2 separate regions of the Homo sapiens genome follow, and region 1 is linked to region 2. Evidence: fine-mapped expression QTL. Tissue or cell type: whole blood. Region 2 holds a variant in brackets; the other region holds the start of a gene. All regions are shown on one strand. Distances are between the middles of the regions.

Evidence for each region. PIP is the estimated chance that this variant, and not a neighbour inherited with it, causes the effect. A credible set is the group of variants that fine-mapping cannot tell apart.
Region 1: CERKL starts here. The variant in region 2 is the best candidate, but not a certain one, in a credible set for the expression of CERKL in whole blood (INTERVAL, PIP 0.81).

The regions. Positions count from the first base shown.
Region 1 is chr2:181,655,346-181,658,111 of GRCh38, forward strand. CERKL (CERK like autophagy regulator) reads right to left here and starts at 1,760. Exons shown (of 13, transcript NM_201548.5): 1 at 1,424-1,760. The coding sequence starts at 1,661. RefSeq lists silencers at 1,398-1,487, 1,618-1,847.
Region 2 is chr2:181,447,042-181,449,807 of GRCh38, forward strand. No RefSeq gene overlaps it. Among named protein-coding and RNA genes, the nearest start is that of ITGA4, 9.0 kb to the right of the region's middle. The variant C/T (reference allele first, on the strand shown) is at 1,478.

The DNA.
Region 1 (2,766 bases), 210 kb after region 2:
TAATTCTATAGCATTTCAGCTGCACTGTAGGTTAAACTGGCTCTTTGGGCTAATCCAAACTGTAATTATAAACTTCTATATTGCATAACTCGAATTGCCTGAAAGACTTACAAATAATTCCATAGCTATATCCCTAGCTTTTAACTTAAAAGGTTCAAGAAAATACTACACCTTGGTTTTTAAAACACCTGAAAACACTTTAAGGTCAAAGACTGTTTTCGTGAAGCGAGCGAGCATGGCACATGCAGCACAGGCAGAATTCACAATCGCAACCAGTGCTGAATCCCTGGCTAGTTGGTTTCATTTTGTTAGACTTTTGAGCAAGACTTTAAGACAGTGAGTCTATTCTGTAACATAAATACCACACTGTGTCTTGTTTTCCAACAGGGGAAGGCAATTTTTTTAATTTCATAAATTTGTATTTAGCTAAAAGAGGTTGAATACCAAATTCCATCTCCCCCAAGTCATCTCCTCGCAAGTAGAGTAACCTTGATGTAGTTCCTCCCCCATTTCATCTGTCTTTCACCGCTCACATCTAAGCTAATTCAACAATGGGGAGTATTTCTCGAGTTTGGACTTAGAAATAAGACTATATGAAAGTCTACTTATAAGACTTGCAAAATGGTCTTTATAAAATATCTGTTAAGTCTATAAGGCTATTTGACTAAGACGTGAAAATAGACTCGAAGTATTTGTTGTAAACTACAGCATTATAACTTTTTTAGGTAACTAAAATTTTAAGTCAATAAAAGGCAAACGTTAAGCAAACCGCTTGACGTAACTAAGCATCGCAAAACTGTGATCCAATAATCTAGGGTCAATATTAAAAATCAAAAGTTTCTAGACCGAGCCTGAAGAAGTCTTAATTCTAGACAATGGCAAGGAAGGTGAGGGGCAGAAAAAAACCCAGAAACACTCCCAAAGCTCTGGAGTTACATTTTCAAGTCAGCAAAATGAGAGTTGGATTCAGAACTCTTGTGTAGGCATAATCTGTGAGATGTTTATAGTTTCAATGTACCATCAAAGTTAATGGATTAAAACTTTTTCAACTTGGAGGGGAGGAGTAGTTGACCTTCTCACATTTGTAAATTACCTCCCCTTTGGGGCTCAAGATTTTCTGCTGAGACTCTGAGCAAAAGCTGCTTGTGACGTTTGCCCGGGGAAGGTCTCGGAGGCGGGAAAAGGCTAGGTAGCGAAAGAATCCCTGGGGGTTCTGGGATGGGGCGAGAGGCGTGAGTTCCCAGTTGGGAAGGAGGAGGCGGCGACTTGGGGACTCGGTAACCTGTCCGGGCAGTGAGGCGAGCACGGGGAGGGGAGGCGAGAAAAGGGGAGGGTGGAGCAAAAGCTCGTGGGTGTAGGCCTTGGGCCGGGGAGAGGGAGGAAGCGCGGAGGGAGGCGAAGACGCTTGGGGCCGGGCACTCACCCGCCGGGCGCTCGGGCTGAATGGGCCGCCACCGCAGTGCTCGCTCGCTCAGCACCACGTCACAACTGTCCCTCCCGATCTCGAAGATGCCCCGGAGCAGAATCCGCTCGGCCGCCGCCTCCGTCTGCTGCGGGGACGTTAACAGCGCCGGAGGCACAGCGGCAGCCTCCGGGGGCGCCTCTTCCTCCCGGCCGCCCTCCAGGGCACTCACCCGGTTCCTGCGCCTCCTCCAGGGCATGGCGGAGTCGCAGGCTGGGCCCGAGCCAGGGGTCCGGGGAGGCCTTTGGAGAAGGAGGTGGAGGGCGCGGCAGCCCCAGCTCTAGCCGCGTCCAGCGCTGCCACAGCAACGGCGCGCAGGGCAGGGACCCAGGAGGGAGGCGGGGCCGCGCCTGACCCAGTCCAGCACCCTGGCCTGCCAGCCTCGCCGCTTCGCCACTCACCACAAAAAGACCCAGCTGCAAGAGGAAGAATAAGTGGCTCCCTCCGCCTAGCTTCTCCTGTAAAGTACGATTTCGTACTTTTCGTTACCCTCGAGTTAAACCAGCCCTCCTCAATCTTAAACTTGCATATAATCGCTTGGGCATCTTGTTCAAATGGAGATTCTTATTGCATAGGTGTGGGACTGGCCCCCAGATACCACATATCTAAGAAAATACTAGGTGATGGATCCCACTGGCCAAGGAACACACTTAGAGTTGCAAGGGTGGAAGCCTCTGTTTTTCCACCTCCTTTCCAGAGGGTTCCCTGGAGAGCACAGGTGACGCTTTACAACCCTGTTTCAGAGTAGTAGCGCACTTCCCAAAACCCCTGAGGGGAAGCTAGAGATAAGGCCCTGGTTTGCATAGACAAATTTGCATCTGACAAATTCAGTATTAAAGGTAAGTGCCTCCAGGTGTAAGTATTTAGGGTCCTACTTTCCCCCAAGGTAGCGCCTCTGCAGTCTTGTCTTTGCCTGGATCTTGCACTCCCTTGAGGGAGATTACAAGCAGCAGGGCTTCACTTTCACGCACTGCCATAAAGAAGTGTCACCTGGAAAAGGAGAAGAGCCCTGGGGGGGTTCACCCTTTTCTCCTGATAACTGAGATTTCTAAAATCAGCTGCTCATTAATTTTGATAACACAGAGAGTCTGGAGGCTAGTGATTCTCAATTGTGGTTGCACATTAAAGTTACATAGGGAACTTTTGAAAACCCAAATGTCCAGGCCACGCTCAAGACAACTAAGCTGGAATCTCTGGAGGCGAGACCCAGACTTCCGGATTTTTAAAAGTTCCCAGGTAATTCCAATGTTCAGCCAAGGCTGATAATGGCTGCTCTAAGCAGGGTGATAAAACAGGGAGCTGAG
Region 2 (2,766 bases):
GAACCCAGCGAGCACTATCTAAACACACTCTCCATCTCCCCCAACACCATGCACCCCTCCACCCCACCCTGTTCTTCCCCATTCCAACTCTTCCATCTGGTTGCTTTATGTTTTGTTTTTCATGATATTACCAGTGTCTCTGTCACCAGGTCTAAAAATGCCGGTCATATTTTACTTCCTTTTAGTACCAACACCACACAATACACATCAGGTTTTTTCCCCAATGCCTTACGAGTTCTTTCATTTTCCCTGCCCTGCTCTTTATGTAAGTTTGGGTCTTGAAACTGCCTTTATGCCTACACCATTTATCAGCAACCAACTGTCTTTTGTCTCCTCATTGTATATGATATTTAATTTGACTACATTATATTATCTAAGGTATATCATATCTTCCTTTGTAAATTATAAACTGAGATTAGGACTCACTTTTTATACAGTTTCATATCTGCCAAAGGACTTAGCGTATTGTTTTGCATGTAATAATTAATGAACATAAACCTATACATTTCCAGCTTATGACATTAATGATGTAAAAAGCCAAAATCATGTAAAGGCCATTTAAAAAATACAGAGCACCTGCTACTTGCCAGGTAGCATATAAAGTGCTAGAGATATGGTGGTAAACAACAGGAGCAAAACAAAGGATGTTTTCTACTCTCAAATTCTAGTGAGAAAGATATAATGAAAAAATATATGATTATAAATTAAAGAGTTCTGGAGATAATGAACAGGATTGTCTGGCAGATAATATTATAGTGACCTATTTTAAATTGGATGGGCAGAAAGTCCTCTGTGAGGACATCTTTAAGCTGAGATGGAAGAAAGAGAAAGAGGAATTATGTGAAAAGTCAGAGGCTATGTGTCCGAGAAGAGGTAATAATATGGTAAAGACCTTGAGGATAAAAGAAACCTTGATGCACTTAAGGAAATTAAGAAAGGCCAATATGACAAAAGCCAAGTGATCCAGGGGGAGTGACCAATGCTAAGGCTGGTGCTGTAGTCAGAAGCCAGATCATAGGGTCCTTTTAGGCCACGTTGAGTGTGGTTTGTACTACAAGAAAGCGATGGAAAACTATTTAAAGGATTTAAGCAAAGGAGTAGTTGCCTGATTCATTTAGAATCTTGAAAGTTCACTTTAGCTTCTGTGCAGAAATTTGATGAGGTGGGGGAATGACAAAGGGAGACCACGTAGCAGATTCTTAAATAGCCCAGATGAAATTATCTTGTGAAATGGTAGTAGCTGTGCAAAAGAAGATTCACATAAGATGGGCTTGAGATATATTTTAGAGGTCAAATTGATAGGACCTTGTGACTGATGGATTCTTTGTTTAAGTTAGAGGGAGGTATTACTTTCCAAATTTCTGGCTTGAACAACTGGTCAGATAGAGTGCCCAGTTGTTTTGAAAAGAAAGAGATTGGGTGGAAGAATAGTTTAGATGAGAAGTCAGGGAACCAGAACTCAGTGTTAGGTATGTTA[C/T]GCGCACAATGCCCACTATACATCCAAGTGGAGATGTCTGGTAGGCAGTAGAACAAATGAACCCGGAACTCTGAAGAAAGGTCAAGGCTGGAGACATAAACTGGAGACTCATGATATTTGTTTATTTATTTCATGTCAAACAATTGAGGGTATATTTAAATAACTCATGAAATAGCTGATTGATTAACAGATATTGCAACATGTATATAAAAAAATCAAACTTTTTTTTATTATTATACTTTACGTTCTAGGGTACATATGCACAACATGCAGGTTTGTTACATATGTACACATGTACCATGTTGGTGTGCTGCATCCATTAACTCATCATTTACATTAGGTATATCTCCTAATGCTCCTTCCCACCTCCCTGCACCCCATGACAGGCCCCGGTGTGTGATGCTCCCCTCTCTGTGTCCAAGTGTTCTCATTGTTCAATTCCCACCTATGAGTAGGAACATGTGGTGTTTGGTTTTTTGTCCTTGTGATAGTTTGCTGAGAATGATGATTTCCAGCTTCATCCATGTCCCTATAAAGGACATGAACTCATCCTTTTTTATGGCTGCATAGTATTCCGTGGTGTATATGTGCCACATTTTTTTAATCCAGTCTATCACTGATGGACATTTGGGTTGGTTCCAAGTCTTTGCTATTGTGAATAGTGCCGCAATAAACATACGTGTGCATGTGTCTTTATAGCAGCATGATTTATAGTCCTTTGGGCATATACCCAGTAATGGGATGGCTGGGTCAAATGGTATTTCTAGTTCTAGATCCTTGAGGAATTGCCACACTGTCTTCCACAATGGTTGAACCAGTTTACAGTCCCACCAACAGTGTAAAAGTGTTCCTATTTCTCCACATCCTCTCCAGCACCTGTTGTTTCCTGACTTTTTAATGATTGCCATTCTAATTGGTGTGAGATGGTATCTCATTGTGGTGTTGATTTGCATTTCTTTAATGGCCAGTGATGATGAGCATTTTTTCATCTGTCTTTTGGCTGCATAGATGTCTTCTTTTGAGAAGTGTCTGTTCATATCCTTTGCCCACTTGTTGATGGGGTTGTTTTTTTCTTGTAAATTTGTTTGAGTTCTTTGTAGATTCTGGATATTAGCCCTTTGTCAGATGAGTAGATTGCAAAAATTTTCTCCCATTCTGTAGGTTGCCTGTTCACTCTGATGGTAGTTTCTTTTGCTGTGCAGAAGCTCTTTAGTTTAATTAGATCCCATTTATCAATTTTGGCTTTTGTTGCCATTGCTTTTGGTGTTTTAGAAATGAAGTCCTTGCCC